Homo sapiens: one gene and its partners. The protein of the gene in region 2 purifies or fractionates together with the protein of the main gene of each other region. This does not show direct contact. Each region holds a gene or a part of one and is shown on either strand. Other genes may lie near its edges. The genes, in order: NDUFAF5, METTL2A, PREPL, TKT, PC, ACACB and TOP3A.

What was found.
Region 1: the proteins of METTL2A (region 2) and NDUFAF5 purify together in Homo sapiens (affinity purification with mass spectrometry; one large-scale study listed by BioGRID and IntAct). This does not show direct contact.
Region 3: the proteins of METTL2A (region 2) and PREPL purify together in Homo sapiens (affinity purification with mass spectrometry; one large-scale study listed by BioGRID and IntAct). This does not show direct contact.
Region 4: the proteins of METTL2A (region 2) and TKT purify together in Homo sapiens (pull-down; one large-scale study listed by IntAct). This does not show direct contact.
Region 5: the proteins of METTL2A (region 2) and PC purify together in Homo sapiens (pull-down; one large-scale study listed by IntAct). This does not show direct contact.
Region 6: the proteins of METTL2A (region 2) and ACACB purify together in Homo sapiens (pull-down; one large-scale study listed by IntAct). This does not show direct contact.
Region 7: the proteins of METTL2A (region 2) and TOP3A purify together in Homo sapiens (affinity purification with mass spectrometry; 2 studies listed by BioGRID and IntAct, with this or other methods). This does not show direct contact.

The regions. Positions count from the first base shown.
Region 1 is NC_000020.11:13,819,054-13,822,080, forward strand, and holds the end of NDUFAF5 (arginine-hydroxylase NDUFAF5, mitochondrial), read left to right. Parts: 3' UTR 1-2,527; downstream 2,528-3,027. UniProt on the Homo sapiens protein: Arginine hydroxylase that mediates hydroxylation of 'Arg-111' of NDUFS7 and is involved in the assembly of mitochondrial NADH:ubiquinone oxidoreductase complex (complex I, MT-ND1) at early stages. May also have methyltransferase activity.
Region 2 is NC_000017.11:62,426,897-62,430,396, forward strand, and holds part of METTL2A (tRNA N(3)-cytidine methyltransferase METTL2A), read left to right. Parts: intron 1-891; coding exon 892-941; intron 942-3,500.
Region 3 is NC_000002.12:44,320,301-44,323,494, reverse strand, and holds part of PREPL (prolyl endopeptidase-like), read left to right. Parts: intron 1-83; coding exon 84-233; intron 234-640; coding exon 641-764; intron 765-1,057; exon of another isoform or gene 1,058-1,594; coding exon 1,595-1,668; exon of another isoform or gene 1,669-2,049; coding exon 2,050-2,139; 3' UTR 2,140-2,855; coding exon of another isoform or gene 2,856-3,194. Other genes in the region: amino acid transporter heavy chain SLC3A1, read right to left, coding at 2,856-3,194. UniProt on the Homo sapiens protein: Serine peptidase whose precise substrate specificity remains unclear. Does not cleave peptides after a arginine or lysine residue. Regulates trans-Golgi network morphology and sorting by regulating the membrane binding of the AP-1 complex.
Region 4 is NC_000003.12:53,239,023-53,242,522, forward strand, and holds part of TKT (transketolase), read right to left. Parts: intron 3,221-3,500; coding exon 3,103-3,220; intron 2,224-3,102; coding exon 2,110-2,223; intron 1,327-2,109; coding exon 1,229-1,326; intron 1-1,228. UniProt on the Homo sapiens protein: Catalyzes the transfer of a two-carbon ketol group from a ketose donor to an aldose acceptor, via a covalent intermediate with the cofactor thiamine pyrophosphate.
Region 5 is NC_000011.10:66,874,884-66,878,383, reverse strand, and holds part of PC (pyruvate carboxylase, mitochondrial precursor), read left to right. Parts: exon of another isoform or gene 1-74; intron 75-3,500. UniProt on the Homo sapiens protein: Pyruvate carboxylase catalyzes a 2-step reaction, involving the ATP-dependent carboxylation of the covalently attached biotin in the first step and the transfer of the carboxyl group to pyruvate in the second.
Region 6 is NC_000012.12:109,115,224-109,119,386, forward strand, and holds the start of ACACB (acetyl-CoA carboxylase 2), read left to right. Parts: upstream 1-1,363; 5' UTR 1,364-1,481; intron 1,482-3,430; exon of another isoform or gene 3,431-3,561; intron 3,562-4,163. UniProt on the Homo sapiens protein: Mitochondrial enzyme that catalyzes the carboxylation of acetyl-CoA to malonyl-CoA and plays a central role in fatty acid metabolism.
Region 7 is NC_000017.11:18,304,995-18,308,494, forward strand, and holds part of TOP3A (DNA topoisomerase 3-alpha), read right to left. Parts: intron 3,431-3,500; coding exon 3,357-3,430; exon of another isoform or gene 3,319-3,356; intron 2,502-3,318; exon of another isoform or gene 2,479-2,501; intron 1,973-2,478; coding exon 1,897-1,972; intron 227-1,896; coding exon 118-226; intron 1-117. UniProt on the Homo sapiens protein: Releases the supercoiling and torsional tension of DNA introduced during the DNA replication and transcription by transiently cleaving and rejoining one strand of the DNA duplex.

The DNA of each region.
Region 1 (3,027 bases), on a different chromosome or scaffold from region 2:
AAACACAGCTAATTGAGGACCCTTATTGTTTAATGTGAGTGATTGTAGTGAAAACACTTATTTTAGTGTGTATAACACTAGTGAAATTATTTTTGTAGTTAAATCTGCTGGAAGTGTGCTATTAAGCTTTTATTGTTTGGAGCCCTCAGGAAACTAATTTTTCTGAATAACCACATTTTCCAAATGATTAAGAGCTCATCCTTTTAAGCAATGAAACTTTTAAAAGGTCTTTATCAAAAATTTTTCATAAATGTTACATTCTTAAATGGTATATGATAAATAATCATCTTTTTTGTTGGTTTATTTTTTTATTTTTTATTTTATTTTATTTTTTGAGACGGAGTCTCGCTCTGTCTCCAGGCTGGAGTACAGTGGCGCAATCTCGGCTCACTGCTGCCTCCGCTTCCTGGGTTCAAGTGATTCTTCCTGCCTCAGCTTCCCAAGTAGCTGGGATTACAGGCGCGTGCCACCACGCTGGCTAATTTTTGTATTTTTAATAGAGATGGGGTTTCACCATGTTGGCCAGGATGGTCTCAATCTCTTGACCTTGTGATCTGCCCACCTTGGCTTCCCAAAGTGCTGAGATTACAGGTGTGAGCCACCAGGCCTGGCCAATAACCATTTCTTGATAACCCCACAGATAATATCATAAACTCAAGTTGTCTGTATTGCTTCTTCCCAGACTGGTCCCAAGAATGCTGTGGTTGGTTTTGTGTCTTTTCCAGCACTTTTCTTACTTGCTGTCAGTTGTCAATCTCAACACCTTGACCAAAATGAACTTTCTTGAGTCATTTCTTCTCTGTTTAGCTATAAGATTAGAATTCATACTGAAAGATTTCTAGGACTTTTGTATTAAGGTAGGAAAGAGGAACTAGGTTCTGGGAGAAAGACTCCTTTGGAATAAAATTCATGAGCTTTATTGGTTCCTTTAACAGATCTTCATTGAGTTTCATGTGCCAGGCATCCAACTAGTCTCTGCTTTTATAGTTGTCAGTCTGACAGGGCTCTAGTATGTGCACACCGTGACACCTGTTGGCTGCCAGGAGACTGTTTGGCTTATTTCCTGGTTCTTAGCAATATTCCAGGTTGGCCTGGAGAATTCCAAAGGTAAATATGAAAATGTATACCTACAAAAGAATTTTTGCTTTATAGGAAGAATTTGTAGGATTTATTGAGATGTAAGCTACCTATATACATCAAGTATGTGATATGATTGTAAAAAGTTACAGAAGTGTGTGAGTCATGAAGTACCTGTGAGGGAAGTTTATATATTTTTTCAAACTCTTTTAGTACCATTTTCATCCACTAGGTGGAAGCAATTACAGTATGACCTGCATTAAAGACATGTACAGTTTTTTGGCCGGCTGCAGTGGCTCACACCTGTGATCTCAACACTTTGGGAAGCTGAGACGGGAGGATTGCTTGAGCCCAGGAGTTTGAGACCAGCTTGGGCAACGTGATGAAACCCTGTCTCTACAAATAAAAAAAAAATTAGCCAGGCATGGTGGCACAAGCCTGTGGTCCCAGCTACTCAGAAGGCTGAGGTGGGAGTATTGATCGAGCCCAGGAGGTCAAGGCTGCAGCAAGCTGTCGCACCACTGCACTCTAGCCTGGGCAACAGCAAGACCCTCGTCTCAAAAAAGAAAAAAAAAAAGTACAATTTTTGTATTGATTATGTATTCCTTAAGTAGGAGTGGAATAAAAGTATTTTACCGTGGATTGGCTTCTGTGAAGGAAAGAAGTGAATATTAGTAGATATTTGGAAAAAAGAAAGATAGTTGATGCAGTGATTATTATTCTGTTCCTTTGTAAGTTACCATTAGCCTCTCTTGCTTAAGAAATATTTTGAGCTTTTTTGGGGAGGGGTTGTGGTTAATGATGTGAAATTAATCTTCAGGAAATTTATCATAAGCAGACTTGCCTTTTCAGATATTGGTATATTTTAATTCTCTACCTGAATACATACATGACAGTTATTTTACCATGCTGGTTTAAAAAACATCAATTTGAAAATACTAGAAGGTGGGGTGAACACTGATAAGTTACTGTTAACAAATAAGAAAATAATGCTTTGCCATCTGTGGTGGTTTTAAAATCTATCCACAAATTTTTGATATGCTTCTCTTTAAGACGGGACACTTCATTCCCCTCTAAGTACAGGCTGAGTTTAGTGATTCCCTTCCAACAAATAGATGGTGTGTCACTTCTGAGACTAGGTAATAAAAGGCATTGCATCCTCCTTACTCTCTCTTGGATCCTTCACTCTAGGGAAAGCCAGCAGCCATATTGTAAGGCCACTCAACTCCATGGAGAAGACCTAGAAGTGAGGAGCAGAGGCCTCCAGCCAAAAGCCATGTGAGGGAGCCATCTTGGAAGCAATTCTCCAGGCCCAAACTTCAGATGACTGTGGTCCCAGCCAATGCATTGACCACAACCTCATGAGAGACCCTGAGCTAGAACCACCTAGCTAAGCCACTCTCAAATATCTTATCTACAGAAACTGAGATGATAAATGTTTGTGGTTTAAGCAACTGTGTTTTAGAGTAATTTGTTACACAGCAATAGATAACTGATACGCGATACACTGTCTTCAGGAGGTGTATTAGGGTGGGCAAGGTATTCTGAGTTGTTATTTTCAGCATAAAACATAGCCCCCTTATTTACAATTAGGTAAAGTTAACATAAACTGTATTACTTTTGTTCTCAGAGAACACCAGACCTGAAATGCTCTTGCCTGGAGGTTTGATTCCATGATATCTTGAAATGGAACTAACTTCCCACATTAAGTTTAGTAGGCCTCAAATTTTCTTTCCTGGGAATATTAGGATAAATTTTTTGGAAGCCTCGATGGGCTAATTTCCAAATGAAATCAGAGAATTTGGGAAGACCATGAGAATTCAGTGAGCTACATAACTGCACACAGATTCTTCAGCCAGTTCCCTTCTGCCGTAGCTGTTGAGTTGCGACAGCTCATTAGGATGGACTGTTGACACTGCATACTTGTTACCAGGCTCACAAATGAGTACA
Region 2 (3,500 bases):
TGTATTAATGGCATCATGCTGTACCTGTCACATGCCACTGCATCATACAGGTGAAGGAGCTCAACATGATCATGCTATAACTCTGGAAAAAAGTCCCAGATCAGAAGAAATTGTTGCTTCTCTTCTAATACAGTTACAGGAATGGAGAGGGTAGTTAGGATGGTGCCTGTTTCTTAGGCCTGGGATAATTCTCTTCCTCTGCATTTGGATGGTGTTGCAGAGTCTAGACCTGGAAAAATGTCTAGATTGGTATAATGTAAATTCATAAATGGGGACTGCGCACGTTACTGGAAGCTGGTTCTGGAACTGGTCAGCCTTGGGATTGAGTCCTATGGTGTGATCTTAGACAATTTCCTTACCCTCTCTGAGCAGTGAGACTGCTGCCTCTGCACTTTATAGTTATGAGGATGGAGATAATGTATGTAAAAGGGCTAAGAACAGTATCTGGCACATAGTTAAGCCCTTAATAAATAGTTGCTGTCTTCATTACCACGCAGCACTGTGTTTAGGACAAGGTTGTCAGGGTCCCCTTTTCATACATTTTTCAGCACAGTCTATTACAAATATTTTCACAATAATAATATAAGCTCAGTAAGAAAATACTTCATCTACAGGACCATTTGCTAGAACTCAAAAGATAAAAGCAATCCTTGCCCTTTTTTCTAGACCACCTCGTTTCTGCTAATAAAAACCCGTGCTCTTGTCTTTTAAGGGTTCCTGAAGTCAACATCAAAATCAACAAATGTCATGAGTACTGTTTAGCTCTGGTCACTACACCTTCCCTAATACAGTTAGGCCAGATTCTTGTTGATTATTATTTTTCTAGCTTTTCTAGCTTTAGGGAATTAACTCTGGAAAGTTCTGTGATTAATAGTTCATTTCTGTCTGCAGGTTGGCTGTGGTGTGGGAAACACAGTCTTTCCAATTTTACAAACGAACAAGTAAGTATGTTGTAAAAGTTTATGATAGCAAAGAAGATAAAAGTGAAGGTTGGCTGGGCGCATTGCTTCACGACAGTAATCCCAGCACTTTGGGAGGCCAAAGCAGGATTGCTTGAGGCCAGGAGTGTGAGACCAGCCAGGGCAATGTAGCAAGAAAAAAAAGTAAAGGTTTTTTCAAAACTTGCTGCATCAAACTATCAGTAATGGTTATTGGAAAATATGGATTATGTCAGATTCAGATTTCTACATTGTTCATTTATGGATTGTTTTAATTTGATTATCTTTGTCATTTGGAAAATTAGACTTAAAACTTGCTAGTGTTAACATTTAGCGCCTTCTTCTTCTTCTAAGGAACAAATGTGTTCAACTTTTCCATTCTCATGATCTCTGAAGAACAGTCAGTGGCTGAGTTGTCATCACCCCCATGGTAGAGTTGAGAAAGCTAACATACATGAAGATGTCTCCTGTTCTGATGAAAACACACTGGTTTTGTGTACTTAAACAGAACGCTTCTGACACCAAATGTGCGGGGTTTTTGCCAACACTGACCAATTCAAAAACAGCTGGGTGTCCTACAATTCAATTCTGACACTGTCTACTTGGAGTTGGTGTCAGATCCCACAAGTTAAGGGTTCGGTCCCAGAAGACTGCCCCCCACTTCAGATGCCAGTTGTGAATCTGGCCCTCCGTGTTTCTGCCCTACAGGCTGTAAATCAGGGTAGCCCTATCTCCAGTTCAATAATTTCCTAGAATGGCTCACAGAACTCAGGGAAACACTTTACTTACATTTATGTGTTTGTTATGAAGGATACAGATTAACAGCCAGCTGAAGAAGTAATTAGAGTGGGGTTCAGAGGATCTCACGCTCAGGAGCTTTGACCCTGAGGAGCTCAGTGCAGTGTCCTCCTAGCACACGGATGTGTTCACCAACCTGGAAGCTCATCAAGGGGTTTTTTTTAGTTTTGAGACAAGCTCTTGTTCTGTCATCCCGACTAGCGCACAGTGGTGCGCCCATAGCACACTGCAGGCTCAAACTCCTAGGCTCAAGCAATCCTCTCACCTCAGCCTCCCAAGTAGCTGGGACTACAGACACATGCCACCATACCCAGCTAATTTTTGTTTATTTTTTGTAGAGACAGGGTCTCACTTTGTTGCCCAGACTGGTCTCAAACTCCTGGGCTCAAGTGATCCTCTTGCCTCGGCCTCCCAAAGTGCTGGAATTACATGCATAAGTCACCGTTCCCAGCCTCAAGAGTTTTTATACAGCTAGGACACAGACTCATGGGAAAATTAATTTTAAAAGGAGAAGAAGAAAATAGTTTTCATACAACATAATCTGCATTTCTATTCAGGACATTGGTGGGTGAAGCTGAAAGTTCCAATCGGTTTGCCCTTACTAGTGTTGGCCCCACCCCAGGTCATCTCATTAAATTCAGTGTGGTCCTGAGGGAGTTCATTATGAATAACAAAAGATACAGAGTCTTGCTTCATCACCCAGGTTGGAGTGCAGTGGCACAATCTCGACTCATTGCAACCTCCGCCTTCCGGGTTCAAGTGATTCACCTGCCTCAGCCTCCCTAGTAGCTGGGATTAAGGGTGCATGCCACCACACACAACTAATTTTTATATTTTTAGTAGAGACAGGGTTTCACCACATTGGCCAGGCTGGTCTCAGACTCCTGACCTCAGGTGATCCACCTGCCTCGGCCTCCCAAAGTGCTGGGATTATATGTGTGAGCCACCGCGCCCAGCCTGCTGAGGAAATTCTTAAGGTTTTTGGAACTCTGTGCCTGGAACCACAAAGACCAACACCAGATATATTTATTATACCATATCTGTTTTGTTTTGTTTGAGATGGAGTCTTGCTCTGTTGCCCAGGCTGGAGTGCAGTGGCGTAATCTTGGCTCACTGCAACCTCTGCCTCCTGGGTTCAAGCGATTCTCCTGCCTCAGCCTCCCAAATACCTGGGATTACAGGCATGCGCCACAATGCCCAGCTAATTTTTGTATTTTTAGTAGAGATGGGGTTTTGCCATGTTGGCTAGGCTGGTCTCGAACTCCTGACCTCAAGTGATCCACCCACCTCAGCCTCCCAAAGTGCTGGGATTACAGGCGTGAGCCATGGCTCCCGGCCCTATAGCTGTTTTTAAACCCCTTGTGGAAATGACATTCCAGTTCTGTATGCATTACTGGAATCCACTGTTTCTCAAAGGTTTCATATAATATATACTTTGCCAATTTAGCCCACAGTATTCATTAACAGGATTAAGTAAAACATTAGCCTCATTACTAATATACACTTAAATATTTCTACAATTTGTTCTCAGAAATTTCTAAGAAAATGGCAAGTCCTAGTAGCTAACACTGAAGAAAAGAGATTGTTCTGCTCTTGAAGTTACAGTCTGAGGAACCCACCTCAAATGGGAGATTGACTTAGCTTCAAGTTATGGCCATTAATTATCAATATCATCAATGCATGTAAAATAATGTAGATGGCATCTTTGCCACAGCCTCTTTATGCCATTTAAATAAGATCGCTGTGTTCAATATCTTGCTAGAA
Region 3 (3,194 bases), on a different chromosome or scaffold from region 2:
TATATTCATAAAATAGAATGTTTTTCTGAAACTCACTTACCAACCTCTTACTTGAAGTATAAGTTTCTTTGCCTTTTTTTTAGGCACCTTTCTTGGATGTTCTCAACACCATGATGGACACTACACTTCCTCTGACATTAGAAGAATTAGAAGAATGGGGGAATCCTTCATCTGATGAAAAACACAAGAACTACATAAAACGTTACTGTCCCTATCAAAATATTAAACCTCAGGTAGTGAAAGACAATTGTGTTAGATTATCCTGAATTTACACAGAAGATAATAAAAAAAAAACTTATCCAAGCTGAAGCAAAAATAGGAGCTTTAGAGATGTTTCTACTTATGATGCCCAAATATCTTCAGCACCATCTCTGCTCATGCTCCATGTTTAATACCTCAGGGGAATAGACTTATCATGCCTTAATTACTAAATTAGCTAAGGTCCTTTAGTCAAGAAAAGGCTATTCCAGATAACAAGTAGTCTACTACTGTAATACTGAGGCGCTCTCAAGATAGCAAGTGAGAAAAAGCATAGAGCACTTACAGGGAAAAATTGGAGGTAATTATTTTTCATAGTCTCTATAGTGGCAAGGGACCATAAGAAATAATGTAAACTCTTCGTGCATGTATTTTCTTTCAGCATTATCCTTCAATTCACATAACGGCATATGAAAACGATGAACGGGTACCTCTGAAAGGAATTGTAAGTTATACTGAGAAACTCAAGGAAGCCATCGCGGAGCATGCTAAGGACACAGGTGAAGGTAGGAGACCCCCTAGAAGCAGGGAACATGGCCAAACAGACTACTACCCACAGCACACTGCTCAGAGGAATATATTTCAGGCTGTAGCCAAATCATCTGCCCAGGATTTAGGGCAAACAATTATTTTGCTATGTTGACTCCCCAGTTAAAGTGTACGTAACTACATGTCTATACATACACTGCCTCACCTCTTTTTCAAAGGACAGTATTAAAATAGATAGGCAGGACACAAAGGAAACAGGAAATTTAAGAATCAGATATAACTTGGAGATGCACTGCCATACAATTATTAATTCATTTAACAATATTTATTGAGCCGTTATTCTTGGGAATCTCTAAAAGACAGATTCTGAGATTTTTGTTTTGGGCCATCAGTGCCCAAACTGTTTAGCTGCATGAATTTCCTCTAGCTAGCTGTTTCAGCTTTATGAGATAAGAATCCCTCCCTTTTGCCTTGAAACTACATGCCATATCAGTCTCCCTGTATTCATCTCCATTTGTCACCCCCATCCATTGCTGTAGTTGGTGTTTCCAGGGCATAAGACTCTCAGATTCCACAGGGCAGGTTGATGATCTCCTGGGTTTCAACCTTGTCCGTGTGGCACCATATAGTCTTTTCCATACGGCCTCTTCCTGCTTTCGCTGTGTCAGAAGTTTGTCTTCTGTTGCTTGTCCCCTCCCATCTTTTTGTTGATGATGGTGGTTTTTGCTTTTTATTCCTTTACTATTATTTGAACTGAGTACTCAAAGAAGAGGGGAGGAATGGGTCTCGATCTTCCAAAGAAGATCCCATACAATCTTCTAATTGTTCTACATGTTAACTCTTCCAGGCTATCAGACCCCTAATATTATTCTAGATATTCAGCCTGGAGGCAATCATGTAATTGAGGATTCTCACAAAAAGGTATGTTATCAAGGCCCTCTCAGTGGACAGATTCCCGAACTAGATACATGTTGTTTTCACATTTTCAGTGGTTGCAGCAGGTTTATGACAAAGCCACTTCACAAATGTCCTATCTATGGGTGAGACCCAGGAGGGGAGGGAGGGACACTGTGTCAATCAAGAGAAATGTCTCTCTCTTGTACTTGATACGTGAGCTCTGTTAAAGAAAATAATTTAATCTTAATTGTTGGAAGCCTTCTGCCTCTCTCTCGAATGAAAGTATTCTTGCCATAAATTGCTGACTTCACGGTTAGGTAAAGATGGATAGATAAAGAGAAGCTTAAACAGTGGCATTTTACTACAAAGGCCTTCTATTTAATTTTTTTAATGTGTTTCTTTTAGATTACAGCCCAAATTAAATTCCTGTACGAGGAACTTGGACTTGACAGCACCAGTGTTTTCGAGGATCTTAAGAAATACCTGAAATTCTGAAACACTGCATTCAACTGGGAATTGGAAACACACTGAAATATTTCATAGTCTTACTTCCAATTGAGTTAGCAAAAAAAAAATTAATAACTTGAGACTTTTAAGTTATTAATTTTTTAAAATGTGCTTCTCCATCTAAATTTTGCTTAGTCTACATCTCACTTGCTTATACTATTCTCTCCATTGATGCACATGCCCATTAACCTAGGAAAGTAATTTTCAAATCATGCTCCTTAGAAGGATGTGGAGTAGAGGGAAGGGAAGGATTGGTGATAGCAGAGCTCCAGGCCTCCCTTCCAGTCAGAACAGTTGAGCAGTTTACAAATTAGTGTCCTGCCTCTTTGCTAGCAAATGCTTTTAGACACTGTGGCAGTGAGTCATCCTCTAATTTCTATGACTGCATTTTAAGGGAAAAGATAAAATTCTTCCCCTTAAAATTCGTTAAAGTTTTTGAATAATCTGGGGTCCTAATGTGTTCTGGTCATCCCTGATTGATGCTATCTGAATAAAGTTATAAGCTCCTATAAGCCATAATTTACTTTTAAACATTTTATTTTTTTCAAAACATTTGAGAACCTTTCTTAAAGCAGTTACATTCAAGCTACAGAAATATCGAAGAATTAATGATTGTTCACCAAGCAGCATGCTGTACATGAAGCTATTACAAATGCTTACAATCCCACTGAAATGCCAGTGTCTTCATCTCTTCATAAAGGTGCCTAACACGAGGTATACAGTATGTTCAGTACACTGGAATAGCATGCTCGATTGGAAACAAAGCATCTATCTCTGAAAGCTGTTTGGCGATGAAGGAGATTCTTCGTGTTGTGTTCAAAGATGAGTCCCTCTCCCTTGTCCAGAAAAATGCCACTTGTATCAACTTTACTGCCTTTGTCGGCAGAATTGGTACTTAACCTTATTCTCATTTTAGCGGGAAGGCCCGAAATCATATTATGTAGATTTAACAGTGTTGATTCTCCAAAATTCAGAACCACGATAAAGATTCTGTCGATGCCATCCAGCTCTCTTGTGTACACAACATAGTGGCTGTCATTCCT
Region 4 (3,500 bases), on a different chromosome or scaffold from region 2:
AATCATGGGGACAGGTCTTCCCCATGCTGTTCTCGTGATGGTGAATAAGTCTCACAAGATCTGATGGTTTTAAAAACGGGAGTTTCCCTGCACAAACTCTCTCTTTGCCTGCGCCTTCCACATAAGATGTGACTTGTTCCTCCTTACCTTCCAGCATGACTGTGAGGCCTCCCTAGCCATGTGGAACTGTAAGTCCATTAGACCTCTTTTTCTTCCCCAGACTTGGGTATGCCTTTATCAGCAGTGTGGAAACAGACTAATACAGTGATTATTCTTTAAAAAAAAGAATAATTTTTTTTTTAAAGAGGCAGAGTCTCGCTCTGTAGCCCAGGCTAGGGTGCAGTGGCTCAATCATGTATAGCTATAATCTTGAAGCCCTAGGCTCAAGTGATCCTCCCACCTCAGCCTCCTATGTAGCTGGGACTACAGGTGTGTACCACCATGCCTGGCTAAGTTTTGTATTTTTTGTAGAGAGAGTCTTGCTCTGTTGCCTAGGCTGGTCTGGAACTCCTGGCCTCAAGCAATCCTTCCCTCAGCCAGCCATTATTCTTAACAGTTTACAACCTCATCCCCCCAGGCCATATCTGACCACCGCAGACAAACTTATGGCTAGAACCTTCCTGGGGGGCCGTTCCTACAAATCACCTGGTGGGCGCTAGAGCAGCACACCTTTCTGGTCAGGCTCATCACCCACCCTCTGAAGGCTCAATCTCTCAAATGTTTGTTTCTTCCCTGCTGATAGGAGGTGGCTTACAGGTATCCCAGAACCCCTCAGAACATACAACCCTCCCCTTTACCAAGATAAAGGCAAGTGGCTCAGGCCTGGGCTCCTGGTGCCTAGTCAGACAGGGGCCTGGGGGTGGGTCTTTCTGAGACTTCTGGGGTCTGGGCACAGGGCTGGGGGCAAAACAGGAAGTCCTCAGCCTAAGCACTCTGGCTGAAGAGCACATGATTGAGAGCACGCACTCTGTGCAAACCTGGCCCTGCCAGTCACTGCTGAGGGACCCAGGGCAGGTCCCTTAACTCCTGAGTGTTTCCTCATTTGTAAAGGGGGCCGGTCATGGCACCAGCCATAGCGGATGTTTAAAGAGCAAAAGAGGCCACGCATATGTATTACTCTGCCCTAGCCAGGAAAGAGGAAGAGTCTGGGGGCGATGGTGAAGGGTGGGTCACCCAAGGACCACTCCCCAAAACTACCCAGGTTGGGGGTGGGGAGTAGGTGTGTTACCTGGCCTTGTCGAAGTATTTGCCGGTGTAGGCCATCCCACAAGCGGCCCCGAGGCCCTGGCCCAGGGAGCCAGTGGCCACGTCGGTGAAAGCTTGTTTCTGTCATAACAGAAGGCCACCGTTAATCTGAGAGGAGAAGGGATCCTGGTCTCACCCGCCTAGGGAGCCACACTCCCACCCAGCCCAGCAAGCCCTTCCTCTGCAGAAGGTCAGGCCCCAGGATGGCCTCTACCTAGCATGTGACTTCTTCTCCTAATGAACTAATTATAATTATAGGTTCAAATCCCAGCCCTGCCCACTAGCCAGCTATGTGGCCTCAGGCCTCAGGCAAGGGACTGAACCTCTGTGAGCCTCAGTTCCCACATCACCCACTTCACAAAGTGCTGGGAGAGAGAATCATGAAAAAATTGACAGAACATTTGCCCCTCGTGGGGACCCAGACCATGTGACAGTTTTTGTGGTAATCCATGAAGTCTTAACGTTTGCAGGGATGCCAGATGGCACCCCAAGGAACAAACTGGGTCCCTTCCCCAGGGTTTCGCCAGCATCCTGCAGCCACTCCCTTATCGAGTCCCCTCTCTTCCCAAGCTGTAGCTACCTAGCCAAGGAGGCCCAGTGCAGAAGGGTAGCTTGGGGAGAGGCCCTCCCTGAAGTCATCCCAGAGCACCCTGGCTGAGGCCTCAGAAGGCCTTCCCCTTTGGCACCAGCTTGGGTTGAATACGTGTCCCCAAAACACCTGCTTCTTTCCTTCCTCAACTCAATGCCCTCCTCCGCCTTTCAACACCTTTGGCTTCTCAGTGGGCACCCCCTACCCCCGTCCCACATGTCTGGGAAATAGGAAGTGGAGGCAGAGGCATGGGAGGCTCTGGCAGGAGCACTTACCGGGACCGGGTGCCCGTCCAAGTCGGAGCTGATCTTCCTCAGGTTCAGCAGCTCCGCCTCGGCCAGGAAACCAGCTTCAGCCCAGACCGCGTAGAGGATGGGAGCTGCATGGCCCTGCCGGGAGATGGATGGTGGGGTGAGGTCAGGTGGGGAGCGGTTCTACTTCGGGCTGTGCCTACTTCACACTGACCCCTGGGGCCCGGCCGAGCCGGCCAACTGCAGCATCCATTTCAGGGGAGGAAGCAAGTGAAGGCCACTTCTCCCCTTTCAGCCCTCTTCAGCCTCTTGGTTTTCAGCCCAAAGTTCCCACTGCCAAGGCCAGGCAGGCACTAAGACAGGTGCAGGGGGCACAGCTGTGAGGCTGGACGAAGCCAAAACCCCAGCAGGCAGCCGGCTGCCCTAATCCCTGGTTTGTGGCATGGGAACAACTTGGACAGACTTCTAAGCTCTAAAGCCTGCCCGAGAGACCAAACGCCACGGAGGCAGGCCTGAGCACAGGTGGATTTCAGGGATCTGTGGCTGTGATTCCACCCAGAAGGGGGGGGTCAGGGGGTCCCCATCCAAAACCCTGCTACAGCACACCACCACCCCGAGGGGGCAAGCCGTGGCCTCGGGAGCGCTGGCACAACACAGATAGAGCAGGTAGGGAGCCACAACCCAGACCGAGATGCCAGTCCTGCCTGTCAACACCCAGACTGGGCAGAACACACAACAGATGTTTCCGTAGTCCCCTACTCCATTTCTTTGAGTTAAAGCGTTGTTTATGTACCTGGGCTCCATGGCAGAGCAACCCATCAATTCAGTCCTGTATTCCTTAGCCAGCTGGGTCAGCACAGAGCAGGACACTGAGGGAGAGGCCAGGACGAGCAGGGAGAAGGCACCTGGGAGAGGTGGGCCCAGCCAGGTCTCCTCAAAGACCACTCACCATTCCAGGGCCCGTGTGACCCTAGTCCCAGGCAAGGTGTGGCTGGCAGTGGGCAGCTGGGCTCTTACCTTGGAGAGCACAAAGCGGTCATTGTGCGGATTCCGGGGGTCCTGGGACTTGTAGCGCATGGTGTGGAAAAAGAGGACAGCCATGATCTCTGCGGCGCTGCAGCATGACGTGGGGTGGCTGTGGCCCAGGAGAGAAGACAGACACAGGCATCATGGCCCTGCACTCCTGAGCTATTGTGCTCAGCTGTACAGGGACCTGGGGGTGCATGTCCTGAGGAGTCACACAGGCCTGGCTTATCAGACAGCCACGAGCTCTTGTTCCCTGGGAGGGTGACACATGGTCTCAAGAAGGCCACTCCTGGCAGTTTGGGGCCTGGGCCAGCTAGTGGGTGCTGGGGACTGTTGTACCTTTCCAGGGGCATCAGATCCTCAGAATCACGGCAACTGAAAATATCTGG
Region 5 (3,500 bases), on a different chromosome or scaffold from region 2:
GGCAGTGGGGAGTGAGTGTGGTGTGGACAGGGGAGGAGAGCAACAAAAATGACCTGTTTACCCACAAACCACGGGTAAGTGCCCCTGTGGTCGCAGGGTAAACCCACCCAGGTGGGAGGAAAGGACTGGGGCTCCCTGGAAAAAGCTTGAAACTGCCCTGGAGGTTTGAGAATCTCGGTGCCAGTGGGCTGCTGCCAGCTGTGAGGCTGCTCACCTATAGGCAGGCCAGCAGGTGAGGAGGGGGAGGGTGCTAGGCTCCTGGGAGACACATAGCCAAGTCCTCCCACCCAAGGAGTCGGTGTAGCAGGAGCTCCCTTCGCCTTTTCCTGCGGAGCTCTTCCTGTCCCTTCTGTATATTTCTTCTTTTTTTTCTAATTATAAATAACGCATCCCCAATGGAGAAAATATGGAAATTTTCCATATGGAAATATAGAAAAGCATAAAGAAGGAGGAAAACACAACTCTACAGCAATTCCATAGCACGTGGGAGTGAGGAGGGTGGCATGCAAGCAGTCCTACAGTTGTTGCCATTCCTTTAAAAAAACTTCATGAGATCATGTTGTTTACCATTAAATTTTCTTGGCTTCACATTACATCACAAGCATTTCCCATGTCATCAAAACCTGTGCAAACACATTATTGTTAATGGTTACATAATGTCTGTGGGAGCCAGGGTGTGGAATCTTTAAATTGCTTCTCATGATTTTCTGTTGTAAATAATGCTGCTTTGAACATCTTTCTGCGTACATCTTGGTTCCCATTTTGGAATATTTCCTGGGGTTGGATTTCTGGAATAGTAATGACTGGGCTCAGGGGCATAACCCGCCACCATGCCTAGCTAATTTTTTTGTATTTTTTAGTAGAGATGGGGTTTCACCGTGTTAGCCAGGATGGTCTCCATCTCCTGACCTCGTGATGCACCCGCCCTGGCCTCCCAAAGTGTTGGGATTACAGGCGTCAGCCACTGTGCCCGGCTTTTTTTGTTTTGTTTTGTTTTTGAGATGGAGTCTCGCTCTATCACCCAGGCTGGAATGCAATGGCGCGATCTCGGCTCACTGCAACTTCCGCCTCACAGGCTCAAGCAACTCTCCTGCCTCAGCCTCCCGAGTAGCTGGGACTATAGGCGCCCACTATCATGCTGGGCTAATTTTTGTACTTTTAGTAGAGACGGGGATTCACCATGTTGGCCAGGGTGGTTTTGAATTCGTGACCTCAAATGATCCGCCTGTCTCAGCGTCCCAAAGTGCTGGGATTACAGGCGTGAGCCACCGCGCCTGGCCGGGCATAAATACCTTAAAGGCTCTTGATAAGTTTTGCAAACAGCTTCCCGGAGAAGCTGCCGTGATGCTCAGCAGTGCCTGCGGGCCGCCTCCTGAAGGCCTTCCTGGCGCTCAGCACTGCATTTACAAAGCTCCCAGGCAGGAGTGGCACCTCATGGTTGTATTTTGAATCTCTTGCTTTCTCGTGGGTTCAAGAGCCACTTGTGTTTGCTGTCTTGTTGCTGTGCTTGTCCCGAAGGCTCCCCTCGCCTCTTCCTGACTTTGCCCTATGTGGTAACTTGAGCTCTTTTGACATGGCCTTTCCCAGCGCTCAGCAGAGTAGACATTTGGTGCCCAGGAGGAGGGTGAGATTTACACCCCACACCTGCTCTCTGATGCCAGTGCCGCCTGCTCCCAGCTGGGAAAGACCTGTCCTCCTAGTGGGCAGCATCCGATAACTCGCCTGGAGCAGGGCTTAGAGGATTGTAGATCTGCATGTGGGAGATAGCAGGGTGATAACGTCTGACGTTCATCCTGCTCTGAGCAGGGTGTCTCCACACCTGAGCTCCTCGCTGGTGCTCCCGGCACCTCTTGAGCAGCAGGTGCTGGGGCATGCACTCCCTAAGGTTATCTCCTCCAGCGGCATTAGCGGTGGGTATGGTTCTTTTCACTTGTCAATTTGAAATGATTTCAGACTTTCAGTAAAGTTGCAAGAGTAAGACAAAGAATTCTCGTACCCCTGACCCCAGTTCCCCCAATACTAGCATTTGCTTCATTGTTCCCGTTTTTCCCTGAACCATGTGAGTGGGTGTAAATTGCAGATGTGGTGCTCGTGGACCCTTGAGTTCCTCAGTGTTTTTCCCTAAGAATGAGGCTGTTCTCTAACATAACCACAGTCCACTGATCAAGATCAGGAAATTGATATCAACGCAATCCTCTTTCAAACCTGCAGACCTTATTTAAATTGTATCGTTGTCCCCTGATGTCCTCTTAGCAATAGAAACCCGGATCCAATCCAGGATCGTGTGTGGCTCTCACCATTGTTGCTTTGGTCTCCTTTCATCTGAAACCGTTCTTGCGTCTTTGTCTCTCACGACCTTTGACATGTTTGAAGAGTCCAAGCCAGTTATTCTGTGGAATTTCCCTGAATTTGAGTTTGCCCCTTGCTTTCTCCTGATTAAATTCAGGCCGTGCACGGCAGCGGGAACCCCATCAGGAGGTGTGTGGTATCCCTTCGGTGCTAGTGATATTAACCTTCATCTCTCGGTCAGCGTGGTGTCCGCCAGGTTTCTCCACTGTGCAATGAATAAGGACAAGGTATATTTTAGAAAGAGGAGGAGCCCAGAGTCCAGCAAGGTTACTCTACCCACGTTCACCATAGCCGGGTGTGACCTGGGTGCCTCCTGGTCACCGCAGTGGCCCCTTCCCAGCCCCCATCTTACCCTGCCTCTGGGAGTCATGCTCTGCCCAACTCGCGCCCCATCCTCCTGAGAGCCGCTCGCTTCTGCCCAGCGACCCGTGCGTCCCTCCCTCCTCCAGGCATCCCCCCTGGGCTCCTTCTTGGCTCTTCCTCCTCGGCCAGACTCAACTCCAGTGGGCCTGAAGACGCAGGCCTGACCCACTTCTCCCAGGCTGTTCTCTCCCTGGCTTCAGACACCACCGCCCCTGTGATGCTGCCCAGGTTCTTGTCCCTGCTCTTCCCCCTCTGTGAGCTTGCCTCACTCCCAGCCCTGCCTTTTCTGTCTTGCCCTTCTTATAGCAGGAAAAGTCATCTCCACCCACCCATACAGGATTTCTTCCTCTACCTTGCTTTCTATGGGGGGTCTCTCGACGAATCTTGTCTGTCATAGCCCAGATGTTTCCTAAGCCCCACCCCGACCCCCATAGCTTCCCCCTGTCAGAGGCTCCGCGTCTCTCAGCTCAGCCTCTGAATTGCCCCAGACATGCGTCGTCTGTCAGCCCCTGCTGCTCGCCAGTCCAGAGAGATCCTTTCCACTGTGCATCGATCATGTCCCTCCTGTCCTGTCCATGGCTGAAGGGAGGCCTCAACCACTGGGCCCTGTCTGTGGCTGCAGCCCCACCTCAGGCCGTGGGCTCACACTTCCCTCTCTCAGGACAGCACCAAGCCTGTTCTTCCTGAGAACTTCACAATTGCTATCCCTTCTTCCTGGAGCTTTCTCTGCGGATCTGTGCGTGGCCGACTTCTCCCCATCCAGGTCCCAGCTTCTGTGTCCCCTCCTC
Region 6 (4,163 bases), on a different chromosome or scaffold from region 2:
CACTGAAGCTCAGCCATTTGCTCAAAGTCATGGCTAATGGAGGGAGGATTCAAACCCACATCAGCTTGATTTCAAAGCCTAATAGTCCTGCCACTGTCAACACCCTGCCTAGATCATGATTATTTGGAATCACTGGGAAAGAATTTTTTTTTCATGAAGTTAGAAGCCTAAGAATTTTTTTCAATGGAATTTTATAAAAATGTCCTTGAATCACAGATGGCTCTCCCTGGAAACATAGGTTTGTTTGAGAGTCACCTCTTTTATTGTCTTAATAAATAGACTAAGAGCCATCACAAGGGCTACTGTGGCTAGAGAACATATGACTCGGGCCGGGCATTGTGCAGGCATTTGACCTGCATTCCTTCACCCCGGTTCCTGTAACATGTACCTGGTGCTGTGGGGTTACAGCTGATAATGCTGAGGTTTCCAGAGCACATGCTTCCAAGTCCAGTGGAGAAAATCCCAAGAAGTCCAATATTCAATGACTGTTCCTTATTGCAAAATAAGCCCAGAAACAAAGTAGCTGTGAACAGGCTGCACCAGCCCCAGCAGCAATTTCCATTTAAACCATTTTGCACAGATCCCGTGCTCAGCGCTCTCGCCAGTTTCTCCACTTGCTGTTTAGTAAGGCCATCATTGTTGGCAGGAAGTGGGTTCCACCTTCCCTGTTGCCTGAGCACAATGTGCTCCTATGTGGTCTCCACTTTCCTGCTGCCTAGTTGGCTGGGCTTCTCCAGCTGGGCCTTGGAGGCGACCTTTGTCCCACATGCCAGCCCTCCCCACGTTGCAGAACACTATGTAACTGCAGCGTGTGCTGAATTTCCTCTTCTGTGCTCAACCCTAGCAAGAGCCAGTCAACCCTGAATGAGAATGTGGCAATGGAGCTGTTTTTTTCTTTTATCCCCAAGTCACAAGAAATTGGAAACATTCCATTAAGTGGCGTGATTTGAGAGGGTTTCGCCAAATCTTTTCAGGGGAGAGAAGCCAGGTGACCTGATAGCGATCACCTTCCCATTCACGGTTTTCAATGGGGGCTTGTTTCTCAAATGACCAACACCTGTAGGCAGTTAATTTTCAGCATGTCACAGGAGGGCCCAGATGACTTTCTGCCTACTGCTTACGACAACATGGACTTTAGATGCCTCATGGCTTCAACAGCTAAGAATTATGAAATAAAGCGAGTTATGGGATTAAAAGGCAGATAGCAGAACTCTCCCAGGAGTAGCCAGGGCTGCACAAGTGGTTTGACGTGGGATCTTTCTCATCTTTGCCCCGGGTTGTTGCTGCTTTGAAGGTTAAGTGCTCCAGGGATATTTTTAAACAGCAGGGGCTGATTAATCTAAAAGTGACATTTGCAGTCCCCAGAGTAAGCAGCTAGCAGGCTTAGATTCAGGCCCTCAGCAAACAAGGAACCTGGAAAATGTAACCCTGAATGCACGGTGGGGAGGACATGGCAAGAGAAAAGCGGCAGGAATAAAGTGGTAAGTCAGCTCGCCCCTCCCCGGGGTCCGGACCATTCTGCCAACGTCCAGGTAAATTCGAACCCAATGTATAGTGAGAGCAGACCCTGTCTGAAGGCATGCACTTGGGGTCCCCGGGGAAAAACGACTCCCGTCATGTTTGAAGGAAGCTAATCAGAAGAGCTCGAAATGTAACGCAGATGAAAGAGAAGGGCCTTTCTTTGCTTCTATAAATGGTGGTGTGGATCCCTGGACATGCTCCCATATAAGTTCCACAACGTTTTATAAACAATTCTGTTTTTTGCCTCCAAAGCTACTGTCTTAAGGAATAGTATTCTGTTTCTGTTTCCTCAAATGGTTGTTCTTTTTTTTTTTTTTTTTTTTTTTAAAGCAGACTAAGGCTGGGCACGGTGGCTCATGCCACCCAGCACCTTGGGAGGCAGAGGCAGGTGGATCACTTGAGGTCAGGAGTTCGAGACCAGCCTGGCCAACATGGCGAAACCCCATCTGTACTAAACACATAAAAATTAGCCAGATGTGGTGATGGGCACCTGTAATCCCAGCTACTTGGGAGGCTGAGGCAGGAGAATCGCTTGAACCCAGGAGGTGGGGGTTGCAGTGAGCTAAAATTGCGCCACTGCATTCCAGCCTGACTGACAGAGCAAGACTCTGTCTCAAAAAAAAAAAAAAAGAAAAGAAAAAGAAAAAAAGGAGACTAAGAGTAAAGCGTTTGTAGTGGTCCTATATCCTATATTTCTAGGAAGACATGACTTTCTTTCAATGTTGAAAAAATGCATTCCAAAATAATATGCAAGTTAAAAAGTCACTCAGCACCGTGCAAAAGTCTCCTTGCTGTTATTCCTGTCTAACCCTCCTCCTCCAGGTAGCCACTGTGCACATTTTGGTATAAACCCCCCAGACCTTTTATTCTGTACACTCACACTGTACACAACTCTCTCCCTCATGTCTATTGTGATTACTTTTATTTTTTAATATCAATGGGCATCCATATAGGTTGGGTGACCAACCATCCCACTTTGCCCAGGACCGGGGAATTCCCGGGACATGGGACTTGCAATTTAAAAACTGAAAGGTGAAGATATTATTATTATCATTATTATTTGAGATGGAGTGCTCACTGCAAGCTCCGCCTCCTGGGTTCACGCCATTCTCCTGCCTCAGCCTCCCAAGTAGCTGGGACTACAGGCACCCACTACCACGCCCGGCTAATTTTTTTTGTATTTTTAGTAGAGACAGGGTTTCACTGTGTTAGCCAGGATGGTCTCGATCTCCTGACCTCAAGTGATCCGCCCGCCTCGGCCTCCCAGAGTGCTGGGATTACAGGCATGAGCCACCGCGCCTGGCCAAAGATATCATTTTATAAATTGCATGTTTCTGCTAATAGTGACATGGAGTTCTTTACAAGATTTCTTTTTATGACTTCTCCAAGTTTTAAGTGGAAAGACCCAGCCAATCCTAATTCATGTGATTTAGAGATGAAAATATCTCTAATCTGTAACTTTCTTTCAGAAGCTCTTAAGAGTTTTATTTGCTCCTGCTCAGGTGTTGTGTAAACTCGCTCATACTTTCAACACCTTTAGGTCTGAGACAGAAATTTGAGTATTACATTACATGAGATACCCAGTCTTCATGGGGAAATAAACATTTTAATCTTTTGAAATGGAGGTTTCCTTGAAGTCTTATCCCAGTAGAAACTTTGACCTTGTTCTTTTTTTTTTTTTTTTTTTGAGACAGAGTCTCGTCCTGTCACCCAGGCTGGAGTGCGATGGCACAATCTCAGCTCACTGCAACCCCTGCCTCCCAGGTTCAAGCAATTCCTCAGTCTCAGTCTCCCGAGTAGCTGGGATTGCAGGCAAGCACTACCACGCCCAGCTAATTTTTGTATTTTTAGTAGAGATGGGGTTTTGCCATGTTGGCCAGGCTGGTCTCGAACTCCTGACCTCAAGTGATCTGCTCACCTTGGCCTCCCAAAGTGCTGGGATTACGGGCATGAGCCACTGCACCCGGCCTGGAATACCTTGTTCTCATGCTTCCTCTGAATTTGTGATTCAGTGACTTGTTACTTCAAAGTAGAGTTCACCTGTACCCAGGGAAACCAGGAAACAGAGTTAGAAATATTGCATTTGATCGGAAAAATGTATGCACATTTCACATCCTATCCTAATAGATCTCTCTGTTTGCAGTGATAATAGTAAATTTATGACCGTAGAGTAAGGTGATTTTCTAGGAAGATAGACCGTGTTCATTTATTCCAGGAATCCAGGGATCCTTGTATCAGAGAATCCAGGCTGGGCACAGCAGAGAAACCAAGGTATTGATTATTGGGTAGTTGGCATACCCCAGGTATGCCATAATAATTATGGGATCTCACATAATTTTGAGGACAATCCTAGGAAGGAGATTTTATTTATTCCATTCCACAGGCCAGGAAACCAAGGTTCAGAGAATTTCCATGATGGGCTCAGGCCAATCAGATAACAAATGGCAAAGCCTCCACCCAAGTCTGCTGTACTCCAGAAGTCCTGCTCTCTGGGCTCATACCTTAGCCACTCTGACCCTTGCTGGGGCCCCAGAAAACAACTACACATAGAAAAGGTCTCTTCAGGCCAGACACAGTGGCTCACGCCTGTAATCCCAGCACTTTGGGAGGCTGAGGAGCTAGATCACTTGAGGTCAGGAGTT
Region 7 (3,500 bases), about 44 Mb from region 2:
TGGGAGGGAGAGTACCTGCAGAGGACCTCATCCGTGGCCCATGTGCACATATAAACAAGAACACTCTATTTATGGAGTTCCAAAGTAGAGAAAGTCAGCAGCAGCAGCAGCACTTACCAGCCTTACACACGTGGATAATCTCAAACCCGATGTTTTCGCCTTCTCTATCACAGTCAGTCCAGATCACCAGAGCCTGGCACTGGCGAGTCTCTCGTTCCAAAGTTTTCTTAAGTTCGCAGTGGAATAAGAGTGGTGAGAACAGAATTGCACAACAGTGACTTGACATCTCTAAGCTAAGGGGATCTGACTGAAGGTTAATGCTGCTCTTGGAGTGTGACAACTTGGCAAGGGAAAGAGAACAGAGAAAACTGCTCTCATTGGTGCTAATCATGATACAACCCCTTAGAACCATAAACGAGTTTCTAGAATAGAGGGTTTAATATAACTTCCCCAATATGACAAAACCTGAAATTCAGCTCTAACACACACACACGCGCGCGCGCGCGCGCGCACGCACACTTCGAGAGGTTCTGATTATGACCTAGTTAAAAAAAACGAAGCCGGCTGGGCGTGGTGGCTCACGCCTGTAATCCCAGCACTTTGGGAGGCCGAGGTGGGTGGATCACGAGGTCAGGAGATCGAGACCATCCTGGTTAACACGGTGAAACCCTGTCTCTACTAAAAATACAAAAAATTAGCCGGGCATGGTGGCAGGCACCTGTAGTCCCAGCTACTCGGGAAGCTGAGGCAGGAGAATGGCATGAACCCGGGAGGCGCAGCTTGCAGTGAGTCGAGATCGCACCACTGCAGTCCAGCCTGGGTGACAGAGCAAGACTCCATCTCAAAACAAAACAAAACAAAACAAAACAAAATGAATCCCAATTGAATTTCATCCAAAGTTTTATCAGTTCTCAATAAATTAACTGGCCAGGCTCGGTGGCTCACACCTGTAATCCCAAAACTTTAGGAGGCTGAGGCGGGTGGATCACGTGAGGTCAGGAGTTCGAGACCAGCCTGGCCAACATGGTGAAACCCCATCTCTGTTAAAAATGCACAAATTAGCCGGGTGTGGTGGCAGGCGCCTGTAATCTCAGCTACTTGAGAGGCTAAGGCAAGAGAATCGCTTGAACCTGGAGGCAGAGGTTGCAGTGAGCTGAGATTGCACCATCATACTCCAGCCTGGGGGACAAGAGCGAGACTTCGTCTCAAAAAATAAATAAATAAATAAATAAAAATTAAAAATAAATTAACTATACATGCCCTGACTGCTTGACAACTGGCAATTTACTGTCAAACAGGCATTTATACTTTGTAGCCTCTTTCATCTAACAAGGGGTGAGATGGGGGCTACGCGCTAATAATTTACAATACTTAGGATTATTTTTTGATAGGGTCTCACTTTCTCACCAGGCTGGAGTGTGGTGGTGTGATTACGGCTCACTGCAGCCTCAACCTCCTGCCTCCTGGGATCAAGTAATCCTCCTTCCTCAGCCTTACTAGTAGCTGGGACTATAGGCATACATCACCATGCCTGGTTAAATTTTTTTTTTTTTTTGAGAGATAGGGTCTCACTATGTTGCCCAGGCTGGTCTCAAATTCCTGGAGTTCATGTGATCCTGCCTTGGCCCCACAAATTGCTGGGATTACAGGCATAAACCACCATGTCCAGCCTTTATTCCTAGGATTTAAACAACTACCATTCATAAAAAAAGTTTACTTCAGTCCCTTGGCCACTTAGCCACATTTATACAATGGGTGGGAACCAGCTTTTTAAATCATGGTAGTGACTTTGGTGGAAAACCTTATCTCCAAATGCCAATGCATTAAAAACAAAGAAATCACTCTGTTTGACTCTGTGGTTTGACTCAGTGCCATATGTCTTCCAAAAGACCCTACCTTGATGTCTACAAAATTCTCTGGGCAGTACTTTTCAATTTCTGCTTCAAAGAGGACAAGAGGGTTGCAGCTCTGCCTAGAAAAGAAATGAAAACAGAGTCCCAACTCAGTACATGACAGAGAGCCCTCCAATCTAATGACAGCAAACTGTTCCAATGGGTTCATGGTGTATCCCCAAAAGAAAAGGTCCCGGTGAATTGAAAGTAAGGCTATGACCCTCTGCATGACACACTGTCCACTTCTCCAAGAGTGTGAACAGGACTGATAAGATGGCATTCTGGAGCCCTTTCACAGGTAAATGCAATCCAATGGCTGCATGAAAAAGGTCTGGCAATTTTGAGGAACACCAAAAGTGACTGTTTAAAGATTTAATAAAAATTCACAATGGATCAGATAATCCTAGGTCATCTTAGTATTATAAATTACTGCTGGGCGTGGTAGCTCACGCCTGTAATCCCAGCACGTTGGGAGGCCAAGGTGGGTGGATCACGAGGTCAGGAGATCGAGACTAGCCTGGCTAACACGGTGAAACCCCGTCTCTACTAAAAATACGAAAAATTAGCCAAGCGTGGTGGCAGGCACCTGTAGTCCCAGCTACTCGGGAGTCTGAGGCAGGAGAATCGCTTGAACCCGGGAGGTGGAGGTTACAATGAGTCAAGATTGTGCCACTGCACTCCAGCCTAGGCGACAGAATAAAACTCCGTCTCAAAAAATAAATAAAATAAATAAATAAATAAATAAATTACCAAGGCACAGTGGCTCACGCCTGTAATCCTAGCACTTTGGGAGGCAAAAGAAGGCAAACCCTGCTTTGTTTAAGACCAGCCTGGGCAACAGGGTGAAACTCCATCTCTACTAAAATAGAAAAAATTAGCTGGGTGTAGTGGCACATGGCTGTAAGGCCAGTTACTTGGGAAACTGAGGCATGAGAATCGCTTGAACCCAGGAGGCGGAGGTTGCAGTGAGACGAGATTGCGCCACTGCACTCCAGCCTGGGTAACGCAGCGAGACCCTGACTCAAAAAAAAAAAAAAAAAAAAACCGGGCATGGTGGCTCACGGTCTGTAATCCCAGCACTTCAGGAGGCTGAGGTGGGCAGACCACCTGAGGTCAGGAGTTCGAGACCAGCCTGGTCAACATGGTGAAACCCTGTCTCTACTAAAAATACAAAAACTAGCCAGGTGTGGTGGCACGTGCCTATAGTCCCAGCTACTCGGGAGGGTGAGGCAGGAGAATCACTCGAACCCAGGAGGCAGAGGTTGCTGTGAGCCGAGATCACACCACTGCACTCCAGCCTGGGAGACAGAGTCTCACTCTGAAACTTTGTCTCCAACAAAAAAAAAAAAAAAAAAAAAAAAAAAAAAAAAAAATTACCCAGTAAGATCAACATGCCTCAAAATTCCTGTGAAATTTCACAACTTACTATAATCTGAAAGTCCTTCCCTTGAGAATTGTACTGACCATTTTCGAAACTGCATCTGGAAATCATGAGCCAGTAAATGTCCAGAAACTGAAGTCATTACCATGGTAACATTCTGAATGATGACAAAATTCAAAATTCAGTTAGTCTTTTTGCAGTTATTATTCTGCCAAATCATTAAAATG